Homo sapiens: one gene and its partners. The protein of the gene in region 3 purifies or fractionates together with the protein of the main gene of each other region. This does not show direct contact. Each region holds a gene or a part of one and is shown on either strand. Other genes may lie near its edges.

What was found.
Region 1: the proteins of SLC6A20 (region 3) and CNNM1 purify together in Homo sapiens (affinity purification with mass spectrometry; one large-scale study listed by BioGRID and IntAct). This does not show direct contact.
Region 2: the proteins of SLC6A20 (region 3) and CORO1B purify together in Homo sapiens (affinity purification with mass spectrometry; one large-scale study listed by BioGRID and IntAct). This does not show direct contact.
Region 4: the proteins of SLC6A20 (region 3) and ATP8A1 purify together in Homo sapiens (affinity purification with mass spectrometry; 2 studies listed by BioGRID and IntAct, with this or other methods). This does not show direct contact.

What each region holds. Positions count from the first base shown.
Region 1 is NC_000010.11:99,381,356-99,384,855, reverse strand, and holds part of CNNM1 (metal transporter CNNM1), read right to left. Parts: intron 1-3,500. UniProt on the Homo sapiens protein: Probable metal transporter.
Region 2 is NC_000011.10:67,437,744-67,440,476, forward strand, and holds part of CORO1B (coronin-1B), read right to left. Parts: intron 2,697-2,733; coding exon 2,592-2,696; intron 2,521-2,591; coding exon 2,375-2,520; intron 2,101-2,374; coding exon 2,043-2,100; intron 1,207-2,042; coding exon 928-1,206; intron 759-927; coding exon 633-758; 3' UTR 1-632. UniProt on the Homo sapiens protein: Regulates leading edge dynamics and cell motility in fibroblasts. May be involved in cytokinesis and signal transduction.
Region 3 is NC_000003.12:45,758,537-45,762,036, forward strand, and holds part of SLC6A20 (sodium- and chloride-dependent transporter XTRP3), read right to left. Parts: intron 1,487-3,500; coding exon 1,321-1,486; intron 592-1,320; coding exon 442-591; 3' UTR 1-441. UniProt on the Homo sapiens protein: Mediates the Na(+)- and Cl(-)-dependent uptake of imino acids such as L-proline, N-methyl-L-proline and pipecolate as well as N-methylated amino acids.
Region 4 is NC_000004.12:42,577,106-42,580,605, reverse strand, and holds part of ATP8A1 (phospholipid-transporting ATPase IA), read left to right. Parts: intron 1-627; coding exon 628-793; intron 794-2,218; coding exon 2,219-2,346; intron 2,347-3,500. UniProt on the Homo sapiens protein: Catalytic component of a P4-ATPase flippase complex which catalyzes the hydrolysis of ATP coupled to the transport of aminophospholipids from the outer to the inner leaflet of various membranes and ensures the maintenance of asymmetric distribution of phospholipids.

The DNA of each region.
Region 1 (3,500 bases), on a different chromosome or scaffold from region 3:
ACCTCAGGTGACATCACCCTCCTCAGCCTCCCAAAGTGCTGGGATTACAGGTGTTAGCCACTGCACCCGGCCTCTTTTTGTTTTTAAAAAACAATGATAAGCCCCTCTTGTTACCTGGAATCAAGGATCCAGGAACTCTAACCCTCTTTTTAAGCATTGTCAGGGAGGAAAGGACGGGAAGAAAGTATTTTTGGTAACAATACTGAGTGAATGGGACACACTTCCTCGTGAGGTACCGAGTTCCTCATCATTGGAGGCATTCACACAGATGTTAAGCCACCACTTGTCAGTGATGCTAAAGAGAAGATTCAGACGGCCACACTAGTGGGAAGAAGCACGGCAGTGTATGGCAGTGAGGGTGGGGAGGGGGAGGGGCTGGAGAGGGTCTGCACTGTTGGTGGGTGTTTATATAAAAGGAAAGGTACCACCCAATGGCTAAATCCTCTATGTGACTCACAGCCTTAACAGCCTTGCTTTCTTTCACACAGCTCTCTTTTTAAAAAAAATTTTTTTTTAAATCATGAACTCCTGCCATGTCAATGTGTTGCCTTAAAAGAAATTGTTGACAAGGTGCCAATGTATCCAGGGAAGCAACTCTGCTCTGCCTCTCCCAGAGGCATTTCTAGGTTCGGGTATCACTTCTTGTCAGTTCCTTCCCCTTGTTCAACAACTCATGACAACTTATTTTAATCTAGCGTAATACTGTTGAAGAGAAATGTAACGTGAGTCCCGTCGGTAATTCAAAGTTTTCTAGTAGTCACATTTTAAAAAGTAAAAACAAGTTAATTTTAATAACATATTTCATTTAACCCAATATATCCAAAATAATTTCACATCATCATGTGATTAGTTAAAGTGATTAGTGAGGAATTTTACATTCTTTTTCGCACTGGTCTTGAAATACAATGTGTATTTTGCACTTATAGCACATCAGTTGGAAAGAGACACACTTCATGCATTCAACAGCCACATGTAACTAAATGGCTGTATTTATACATGGCTACTGGCTGCTGTACTGGATGGTGAAGGTTTAGTGGACGGCCTAAACAGCTGTGCCCAGTTTCGATGACCTGGCCTCGCAGGGCCAACAGCACTCCCACTACTCACCAGGACAGAACCACTGGTCCCACCCAGCTTCTCTCTCTACCCAGTCCCTCGAATGCGCCATGTCTACTTGCCTTCCATACCTGTTTAAGGGTGTCCCTTTGCATGGCATTGCCTTAATTCTCCTCTTGTTCTTTCCAAACTCCTAAAGTACATTCTCCAGCCAATTAGTGCTTAAAAAATTCCAGATAGTGGCTCACACCTGTAATCCCAGCACTTTGGGAGGCCGAGGCGGGCGGATCACAAGGTCAGGAGTTCGAGATCAGCCTGACCAACATGGTGAAACCTTGTCTCTACTAAAAATACAAAAATTAGCCAGGCGTGGTGGCGCATGCCTGTAATCCTGACTACTCAGGAGGCTGAGGCAGGAGAATCGCTTGAACTCAGGAGGCGGAGGTTGCAGTGAGTTCACTGAGTTGAACTCAGTGAGGTAGAAGATCACGCCACTGCACTCCAGCCTGGGGGACAGAGTGAGACTCCGTCAAAAAACAAAAAAAAATTCCACATAATTTTGTAATGAATTAGATAGTACCCTGCATTGGTCACTATTATTTAACTTACCTTAAGCTTCCTCTCTCTAACTGGTCTTAATCTACTTATAAGGCAGAGGATATATTTTTATTAGATTTATATTTCTGTAGTATAGCTCATGGCACCCAGAACCATTGTTAATGCTTAACAAATACTTATCAATTAGTTGACTGAGGGAATCAAGCCACTTTTCAACAGACTCCATGTTTTTGTTTCCTCTTCATTGCAGTAGATATAACCATTTATTAGCAACAGCTTTAGTTCAAATTGTCTTCTCTTATAGAGTGGCCAGTTTAGAATCCAATCACCCACTAAGCTACAAAGGAAGCGGAGGTCTGTTTATTCTGAAAGTAGTGAAAAGCAAGGGTGGCTTTCTGGACTTTTTGACTTAGCAGCCAAGGTGTCCAGAAGTTAACCTTTAGGCTAATGTGATGTCTCCTGTCATTTTATTTTAGAGACAGGGTCTCACTCTGCTGTGCAGGCTGGAGTGCAGTGGCATGATCACAGCTCACTGTAACCTTGAACTCCTGGGTTTAAGCAATCTTCCTGCCTCAGCCTCCCAAGTAGCTGGGACTACAAGTGCATGCCACCATGCCTGGCTAATTTAAAAATTTATTTTTATAGAGATGGGGGTCTCACTTTGTTGCCCAGGCTGGTCTCACACTCCTGGCCTCAAGTGATTCTCCTGTCTCAGCCTCCCAAAGTGGTGGGATTACAGGTGTGAGCCACTGCACCTGGCCTCCTATCATGGTATGATGTTGTTTTCACTTTCAAGTGGTTTATTCATCCCTGAAGACACAATGCTGCAATCTAGGGTGATGAGGAATCTTGGTCAAGGTTACGTAGTCCAGACTGTAAGACATCTGCCAAGTAGTCTTAGCTTAATGATGACACAGAACACATTTCAAAAAACTTACTTCATAAGAATTCTTTGGTACCTTCATAACTTATTAACTACCATTAATCATGGCTTTGTTTAACACCTTTCCCAGATAACTATTAGATGCACCTTTCTATCTCATTTTGTAACTTATCTTGAAGTTCAATTACTCCTGGACTTAATTCTGGACCTTCAGTCTGTTGGATATAAAAAGCCCTTGAGAAACCTTCCAGCAGCCAACCACAGGGGCTTCGCCCTGTGAAAACACTCATCTTGCAGTCTTCTCTTTAGCTTCCCCCAAAACCCTCATGTTAAAAAACACAATAACAACAGAAGGAAAGATGGGGAGAGACAGGTGAGGGAAGTAGATAAATGAGTGGCCTAAATAACGTCCCTAACACAGTCTAATCAATCAGGAGGAGGTAATTTTCAAAGTTAATCTAAGGCAGAATCTTATATTAAAAAAAAAAGAAAAGAGAAAATCAAAACAAAAAAGACACTTGTGTTAAAAAAAAGAGCTTGAACTCACAGAATTCCTTTTTGGAGAACTACCCATTTTAATCAAAGTTTTTTTTTTGTTTTTTGGTTTTTTTTTTTGAGACGGAGTTTCGCTCTTGTCGCCCAGGCTGGAGTGCAGTGGCGCCGATCTCGGCTCACCGCAACCTCCGCCTCCTGGGTTCAAGCAATTCTCCTGCCTCAGCCTCCCGAGTAGCTGGGATTACAGGTGCCTGCCACCATGACTGGGTAATTTTTTTATTTTTAGTAGAGATGGGGTTTCGCCATGTTGGCCAGAGTGGTCTTGAACTCCTGACCTCAAGTGATCTGCCTGCCTCAGCCTCCCAAAGTGCTGGGATTACAGGTGTGAGCCACCGCGCCTGGCCTAAAGAGGTTTTTGAATAACACTCTTTTTTTTCCTTTTTTTTTTTTTTTTGAAGACAGAGTCTCACTCTTGCCGCTCAGGTGGAGTGCAATGGCCTCGGCTCAC
Region 2 (2,733 bases), on a different chromosome or scaffold from region 3:
CACCTGCCCCTCCCTGCTGCAGGACCCCTGGTCCACACCAGACCCTCCCCAGTCTCTCTGGAGGAGGCTGGGCTGCCGGGCCTGTCCTCCAAGGAAGAAGCAGCACCAACTTGAAGCTGGATGCAGCCTTGCATGTGTTCTCAGGTCTTCTGCCTCAGTTTCCCTGCCTGACAATCCAGGGGAGCAATGCCTGTGGGGCTGCTCACTGCCCCCAGACCTTCTGCACATGTGTGACTCCTGTGACATCCTCTGTCTCCAGGTTTCCAGACTTCTCAGCCCCACCCTTGCAGCAGCAGGTCAGCCTGGCTTTTAGAAAGAGAATTTTATTTGGAATGAAAATATAGAGCCCACCCTCCCGCCTCCTCTGGGGAGGGAGCAGAGGGCTGGGCAGTGGTCGGGGAGATGGTCCCTCAGAGGTCGAGGAGCTCGCCTGGGCGTAGACATCCTCCACAGGAACAGTGAGGAAAGCTGGGCGCTGGCTTCGGCCTGGGCCTGGGACGGGTGGGGGTGGGAACTGACCCCTGCGCTGCCTCAGAGGCTCTGGGCAGCCAGCTAGCCCGGTGCGACCCGCTGGCAGAAGCTGAGTGGGAAGGGGGCGGCGGAGGAGATGAAGGTGGCGTGTGGCTGTGGCCCTACGCATCCCCGTTCTCCATGCGGCCCAGCTGCTCCTCCAGGCGGCAGATGCGGTCGCCCTGCTCCTTGACCAGCGCCCTCAGGGCCCGCAGCTCCTGCATCACCTCCTCCAGCTTCCCAGCCTCCTGTGGGGACATGAAGCAGGGGTAGGGGGCGGTGGTCAGGGGCTGCTAAGCCATAGCCCTCCCAAACCCACCACTACCCCAGAGAGGGACAGCGAATGGCTGAAGCCCACACAGCAGGCCAGGGCCACACCTGGGGCTCCCAGCACCACCCCTGCCTGCGCGTGCATACCCCGGCTCTGGCCAGGCTGCCGCTGGGGGTGGCATCAGCAGCAGTGGTGGTGGAGGCGGGGGCCCCTAGGTGGGAGGAGCCCGGGGCCATGGCGGGCCGGCTGTCAGACAACACGTTGCGCCGGCTGATCTTCAGGTCCCGCTGCTTGCTGGGCACGTAGGCCTCCCGCAGTGAGATGAGGATCGGGTCGGCATCCCGCCCGCTCACCCACTCCTCAGCCTCCAGGGCTGCCTCGGGCCCGGCTGTGTCGGGGTACAGATCATCCTGGAAGAGGTCCGACTGGGCAGGGGGCCGGGGAGGTCAGGATCAGTTAGGAGGCCCCATCAGGGTCCCCTCATCCCTCCCCTGGCCTCCAGGCTTGCACTCTGTTAACCCATTCTCCCACGGCCTGGAAAGCTCAAATCTGGCCTTTAACTTCCTTTCTGGACACCATCAACAGCTCCCTCGGAAGCTTTCCCACCCTTCTGAGCAAGGCCCCTGTCATCACCTTCCCCTGCAAGGCACAGGGGCCACTATGTGGCTTTATGGGATTCTGGGGCCCATGGACTGTGAGCTCCTGGAGCAGGCCCTATCAGCTCAGCTCCACTCCCCAAAATGTGCCTGGCATGTTGAAAGAGCAGTCGGCAAATGCTGGCCAGAGAATCATGGAAGCGTGTCCGAGGCTCTTGGCATCTGAGGCCAAGCCACATGTGGCCCGGTCCCCTCTTCATGGGATTCCCCACTGCAGCCAGACTCCTTGTTCCTCTCTCCATTCCCACCACTGTGCCCTTCGCCTGGCCTGCCCCCAGTGGATGGCGCCACCCCAGCTGTGTTATGGGTCCTGCCTCCTTCAGGAAGATCTGTGTGGCTGCCACTCCCTCCCTGACTGCCTGGTGTCCTTCTCCTGTGGCTCATCCAGAGCAGGGCCCCTGCTCACCCTCTGTCTCATCCCCACTTGCCCCCTGACTGGCACAGCCCAACAGCTGGCTGGTACAAGGGCAAGCTGGCATCTGTCCAGCTCACTGCCCACAAACCATACTAGGTCATGTTCCATTCACAGGCCTCGCCCTGGTCACAACTGCATGGCCCGCTTGCTGGAGAAAGGGCCAAGTGAGCCGAGGGACGGGCGGCCTCACCTTTCTTGGCACAGTCATGACGATGGGCTCACACTTGCGCTCATGCAGTTTGTAGAACCTGGGGATGCAAGGAGGAGCCACGGGTGGAACCCTCACCGCCCCCCCCACCCACCGCCAGCTCTCCTGGCATCCTCCACTTCCAGTCCTCACCCCAGGACCTCCGCAGGCCGACCCCTAAGGTGGCTAGACCCCCACACGGGCTGCCTCGTGACAGTTCTCATGGCCCGCCGGGCCTCCCTGGCGCAAGGTTTCCTGCTCCCAAGCAGCCTCCAATGACCTGACCTCTCACCTTAGATGCCCCTATCCCCGAGTGGCCTCGGTAGCCCTCTTACCGGGCGATCTCGCACTTGCTGACCTCCAGGCCCCGCTTGGGCATGCTGCCCATACCCCGCTGCGGCTCCTTGCTGGTGAACGTGTTCAGGAAGTGGATGTAGGGAGGCTCCTCTGTGATCTCAAAGTACCGGATGCTGGAGTCACCCTGTGTGGGGAGGGGGCTCAGCACCTGGGCACGCCTCTTCCCTGCCCCTCGCCAGCCCTGCCCAGCCCCACCTTGCCGCAGACGTAGACCACACTGGTGTCGGGGTCGTAGAAGGGCAGCAGGGCCCCGTTGCTCGAGTCCAGTTCCTGCAGGGCCATGGGTTCCTCGAGGTTTTCCTGGCACATTGCAGGCAGTCAGGCCAAGCAGAACCTC
Region 3 (3,500 bases):
ACAAATAGGTCATCTTAGGCACTTCAAAACTCCTTAAATGGATCTAAAAATATTTGTCCTCTAATATTTTGGTGTCTCTTCAGCCAAAAACAAAAATTGCTTAAATTTGGTCCCATAAGAATTATAGTCATATTTCAGTTTGCAATGTGCCCTAATTCTAGGGCTTTCCTGGAATGAAGGATGCAGTTATCTTTGAGACCGGCTTTCATAGCCCACCCCCTTCCATGATGAGGAGGCAGGTGACAGGGAGGAACAGCCACCACGGGAGGGTGTGCGTTCTCCCAAGGGAGTTTTCTTCCTGCACACCTTCCTCATCTTCTTTAGACACTCAGGAAGTTGATGGGCTGAGCACTCCTGGCTTAAGCATTTGAAAAAGCAGCCGAGGAGTTTCCGCCTGTAAATAGTATCTGTAAAACCGTGAGCGGCTGGGAAGCCCACATCTCAGGCCACGGGGTCTGCGTCTCCCCTCTTGAGGCGACGCTGAACAAAAGTCCCCAGGGCCGCCAGGGGGATGCACATGGTGGAGGAGGCCACAAGCAGCCCGATGACAGCCAGTGCATAGGCCGGGTAATCTTTGGTCACGAGCTGGCCCTGAAAGGAGAGACTGAGTGTCAGCAGAGAGCACCTGCTGAGCACTGCCCCTGGGCCTCAGGGCCCATCCGTGATGGGGAGGTGATGTGACGTGGGCAGAGAGCATGTGGGGCCGGTGTCCTCACTCCTGGGGCCACGGGCTCTGCAATTCACTAGCAAATGTGCCAGGAGCCTAACTGCCCTCACCTTCTTTTTCTTCCATAAACTAGGAATAATAGTAACTACTTGAACCAGTGGGTGTAGAGCTATTGTTTGGAGCTACCCATAATGAATAACCATGGTAATAATCAAGCACCTTATGTCTAAGGCAACTTTCAGGGAACCTAAACTGTAGGCGACTACTCTTAGCCTGGAATGGGACTTTCCCGTGAAGGTAGCAACGTTCTCTGTCAGTGCTGTCTGCTGCGGTAGGCGCGGAGGAGAGCGCTGCTCAGGAGGCAGGAGCTGGCGCCTTTGCAGCGGGAGTTTTTCTCAGCTTCCGGGGGACAGGTGGATGGGGAAGCTCTGGAGGAGTGCCTTCCTCTCGCCCCACTGAAGCACATACCTAAAAGCTCAAAGCCCAGCTCCTCCGTGCTGGACTATTTCTAAAATACCTCAGTGATATTTCCATGTCGTGACAAATAACCTACCCACACCATGGAAATAGTCCCCTGGTTTCGGAAAATGAATGGCCCATGCTTTTCAGTGGCCATGGGGGCCCAGCGCCAGCCCTACGGAGACAGTAGATACCTGGGAGGCGTCCCAGGCTTGATACTTCAGGGTCCCCGTGAGGATGTAGTCGCTCAGGTAGAAGACAAAGAGGCTGACAATCAGCAGTGGGCTTACGCCAGCCCACATCACCTTCCAGTACCAGCTCACAGCTCGGCCGGTCATGGCCTTAAGGTCACTTTCAAATCTATTTGGAAAACAGGGAGAGAAAGTCTGGATTAACCAGGCTGCGGAGGTCAGGGCGTCCAGCTTGCCTGTCCCTATTCACAAAGGAACATTCTGTTCTAGGTGGTAAAGGATGTCTGAGCTTGGCCACTGGGCTCCTCTGTGACACCTTCTTGAGAGACGAGTGCTGCGGTGGGGAGGGGAGAAGGGCTGAGGCTGCCCAGAAGGGATGACGGAGCAAGCAACCCGCAGAGAGTGGACATCAGAAGACGCCTTCCTAATGCCAGCCTTCAGATGAAGGCTGCTGGCATAGCCCAGAGGGCAGCCTCCAGGAATGGTGGGCACAGGCAGCAGGGGATGGACATTTGTCAGGCTGGTCATCAATGACAGGGACTTCTTGGGCGGCTTTGCCCACCCCCCTACCCAGCCCGCCCCTGTCAATCAGTGACTCCCTTTCCCAGTAGAAACACCACGGAGCAGAATCACTTGGTCCATTGAAACCAGAGCAGGTTTTCTGGGACAGAGGAAGAGCCAACCTCGGACTGAAGGACCGTAGCCCTGGCCTGCTGGAGCTGGTCTAGAGTGGCCAGGGCAGTGAGTCCCAAAGGCGTTGCCCACAGCCACCATCACCACCTCCATCATGCCTGTAGCTCTCTTTTCCCTCTTCTTTACTTTTAAACCTACGGTTAGCAGCAGCACAACAGCAGCCAGTTTCTCATCGACTTGACAAACTAAGTACGTGTGTTTTTGAATACACGTACACAGTATAAAAAGTATCTTTGGCATTTTGGGAGATGTTGGCCCAACGAAACTCCCCATTTCACACAGGAGGAACCAAGGCCCAGGGCTGCGATGCCTTCTTCCTTAGGGCTTGGTAAAGACCAGGCCCAGAACCTGGGTTGGCCTCCTGCCTCCAGCCCAGAGCCTTTAAACCTGCTCCCTACAGCGGAAGAGGCAGCCTTGGCGGGAGGGGCTGGGGTGGTGTGGGTGTGACGTCACCAGCTGCAGCCACAGCCCCTCCCTCCCTGGGACCTGCTGCATGTCCTGGGTGTCCATGCGAGGCTGTGTGGCGACCACCACCTGCCCTTTGCTGCTGCTGACGTAGTTGGACTCTAGGCTGCAGGCCATGAAGGCTCATGTATGTGACACGAAAACCTGGGGCTTTCAAAATCAGACAGGTGAAAAAGTGTTGGGGGTCCTCTTGTCCCTTCACACCCCCATAACCCCCCCCCCTTTCCTGGATGGAGAAAGTTGGGAAGAGCTGGCTGCAGAAAAGCCCCAGGACACTGTTGCTGGGTGGTCACTAGATGGCGGTGTCACCTGAGCAAGCCGAAGCACTCCCCTCCTGCCACTTACATGGTCAGTCCACCTACGACATCTCCAAGGCACGTTTGTTTCTGCCTCTGTCTCCCTTCACCAGCCCCTTTTTGATGGACTTGTGCCCCTCACCCATCTAGTGACCTCCAGCGGGCCCTAGGTTCTGTTCCTCTCTCCCAACCTTCTCTTTTTATCCTGAAACACTCACCCTCTCAGTGACCAATCTCTTTCTCCCTCTAGACTGGCATTTCCTAGGTGACCAGGGATTTTCCCAATTTTAGTACTGAAAGTTCCACGTCCCAGAAAACCCCTCAATCCTGGGGAAACAGGGAGAGTTGGTCCCCTTAACACTAGTGTCCTCAAAATGTTAGTAGCTAAGGGTGGGAGTCGGGTGAGAGGAGGGTGAAAAGGCATTCCTTGACCAAGTAAGTCTGGAAATGCTGCAATTCTAACCCTCTCTTTGGGATCCACAACTGTCTTTAAGATTCTGAGAAGTCCTACGGGAAAGACATCAATTTGGCTTTGTTTAACTTATGTCCTGATGGATCATGGGAGATCCCTCAGCATGGCACGGGACCCTGGCCTTTCCGGGGACACAGCAGGGATTGCTGCTTCAGGGATGCCTGCCTCCCAGAGTGTTGTCAATGTCTCCCTCCCCACCCTGAACCAGCACAGAGGATCAAAAAGACTGGGGAAGAGGGCAGAAAACAACGTGGCAC
Region 4 (3,500 bases), on a different chromosome or scaffold from region 3:
TCATTCTGACATTTAATTTTCTGTTCTATGGATTTTTTGGTTAGCACAGGTCTACATAACCATTTGAATCATCAAATACAACTGAGGCAACTTGCCTCTGTTATTCTTTATAGCCAGGACTACTTAAATTGTTGCTGCGTTCAGTAAAACAATTGCTAAATGCCACCAGAAATTTGAAAGCCGGAGATCCTTTAAATGTTGCCTTCCTATGTTCAAATTTCCAGGTGCCTGTTTGCGGGAGCATGGGCTGCCTTGTCTGCCTGTCTTCCTGAACGGAAACACTAAATGTTTCTAGACTACCCTGTTTGCTTACATAGCCAAGTAATGCATTATTCATCTTACCTGCCACAATGCAAAAGCTATTTTTGCAAAGGGAATGTAATTTCGTTCTCTTCTTTCTTATAGTTTACTTCCTAGAAAAAGGCCTGGGTGGTGTAGTGGCCTTGAAAAAAAGGTGGTTAACCATTGGCACCTTATTACATTTGTCATGGGTTTCACATAATTTTCACGTATCCACCCACATCTAGATACTGAGTTGTGACTTTGTCATCCTCAACAGAATACTAAGTATAGATTGCTAAATCATTGGTGTACATTTTTTATTACTCATCTTGTTTCTTTTTACAGAATTCAACAAGTCCACCACTTAAGCTCTCAAATGTGGAACGGATTACAAATGTACAAATTTTGATTTTATTTTGTATCTTAATTGCCATGTCTCTTGTCTGTTCTGTGGGCTCAGCCATTTGGAATCGAAGGCATTCTGGAAAAGACTGGTATCTCAATCTAAACTGTAAGCAATAAAGTGCTTACTGCACTTTTTTAGATTAAGACATGTATTTGTTTCACAATTGATCTTGATTTACTTTATTTCGTATTGTTTCTAAAAAGACCTTGTTGCCAAGATAGCTGGACATTTGATCTTTATTTTTCAGTGAGATTTCTAGCAAGTGTAAGTAAAATTTGGGAATCCTAAAATTTCAGAATCCTTAAAAACATAATGAGCACTCTATAGTGGTATAAAATGTTCACTAAGTATAGTCATTTATTATATATATCAACGAAAACTATTCCTTAAAAATATTTTTAACATAGGTGGTTAACTATATGGTAAAGAAAGTAGATTGACCATGTGTGGATATAACAAAACATATATATTTAAATATATATTGTATGTATTTATAAATATATAAAATATTTTAAATATATTTAAATAATATAAATATTTAAATATATTTTATCTTAAATAAAATATACTTTGTTTATATTTTATTTAAATAAAAGTACCAAAAAGTGGTTTATATGGTTTAAAAATGTTTAAACCCAATGTATTTTCATTTGAACTCAGTAATGTGGTAAGTCCTATATTAAATGTTATCTTAGAGAAGGTGCTAGTAAATAGTTTTCCTTTAGAGCATTTATCCTTTTATTATTGTGATATTAATGTACCACCCCTGGATATTTCTGTCAAATGAGTTTACATTTTCATTTCATGAGTACTTAGCCAATAAAGACTTAACTTCCAAAAGTGTGAAAGCAAATTCTAGTACAATCACATAGCAAAAACTGGTATTTTTAAATTTTTTTTATTATATTGATTTATCTTTGCAGCAATTCCAAGTTGTTTTTATAGTTACTGATTTATTATTTCAGTATCAGAACTGTTACTACCATCAGTCTGTTTCTTTGTATACTTTATAATTGTATCTGGTATAGCAGTTTTATTTTCATTTTGAGGAAGAAGAGTATAATGTACCTAGGAGAATAATTTACCTAGGACTGAATATTACTCATATAGTTTGGATTGTTTTTGCTGCTGCTGTCTTGTTTGCTTTTAAAGTATGCTTTAAATTGGAAATACTCTTAAGAATTTATATAAAAGTGATTCTACCCAATTGAGATTTTATATTTATAAACCCTCAGTGCTATCCCTGATGTCTCTAAACTTTGTGTTTGGAAGAGGGTTTGCAATATTTGACAGTCCTTTCACTGTCTTAGTACTTTTATACAGCTCTTACCTGGATTAACAACATATTGAACACAATGCAATTCTATCTTGAAGGATGTACTTGAGAATTAGGATAGATTATCAGCAAAGTGTTCCTCCCAAATTATCAAATAAGCTGCGTAGTATGGAAAACTTGTATTATGCTAATTTGGGGTCAATGCAAATAAAATATAAAACTGTAAATGACGTTCTTCCTGCCTCTCCCAACAGATGGTGGCGCTAGTAATTTTGGACTGAATTTCTTGACCTTCATCATCCTTTTCAACAATCTCATTCCTATCAGCTTATTGGTTACATTAGAAGTTGTGAAATTTACCCAGGCATACTTCATAAATTGGGTAAATATGAATTATGATTGTTATCACCCTACAAAATAATTTTGTCCTTAGGATATTTTGATATCTCAGGAGAAAAAAGGTTTTAATTATATCTACCGTTTCTTGACCACAGTATCAGATTTTTGAACCTAATTTGTTGCAAAGTTCCTCATCTCAGAATCACACAAGTTTACAGGCCAGACATTGTAGGGAAAATGGGTCTCTAGTTCAGGAAACCTATGGTGGTCGTGGGAGATGGAGAACCATGAGTTTGGAGTTAAGTGTCTGAATTATGGTTCTAGTATTATAATTTACTAGGTGTATCAACTTTCTCAAGTCACTTATTTTGAAACTTATTTTCTTGAACACAATCATAGGGATAATATGCCTTACCTACATCTTACAGTGGTTTTATGGACTAAGGAATCTCTTGACATAGCAAAGAGCTTTGAAAATAATCAATCACTATACAAATAATACTGTAATTCTTACTGATATCAACCAGATTATCATGTTATATCATGTTATTTTCTACACTGTAAACAATTTTAGCTTCACTTGAATTTTTCTTCATAATTTTTCTCTTGAATATTGTTAAATATTAGAAAAATGTTGGACATCTACTTTCTAAATGTTTTTAAATGTCTTAGTTTTATTTTTATTAAAGTTAAAATTAATGAATTTATCTAAATTAAATCTGTGGGCCTAATCTGCCAGAAAATTTAATTTTTCTTTTATTTTGAGAAACTTTGTGTTATTTTTGATGTTTCTTTCTTTTTCAATCATTGTAAAGTCTTTCAATATGAACAATATTAGGGTTTCGAAAAATATGACATACTTTTGTAACTGCTCATTATCTTCTTGTAGCGAATTATCTACCTAAACTGTCAATCTCTTAATTCATTGGTAAGAAATCAGTGTGATTTAGAAATCTAAAATGAGCTGCAGGTGTAGCTCACTTCATGCAGGAGATATATGGCTGAAAAATTACGTAATAGGATATGTACAAATATAAGTAAGACTTATTGAAGTTTCTTATAGCAATAATAGGGTAACTCATTGTGAGAATCACATAAGTAAGCTAGATAATCACTTTGTTGTTTTGATTTTCAAAAATAATATCTTTCAAAGAATTATATAATTTTAGTATTGGATGAACCCAGCAGGCTTATGCT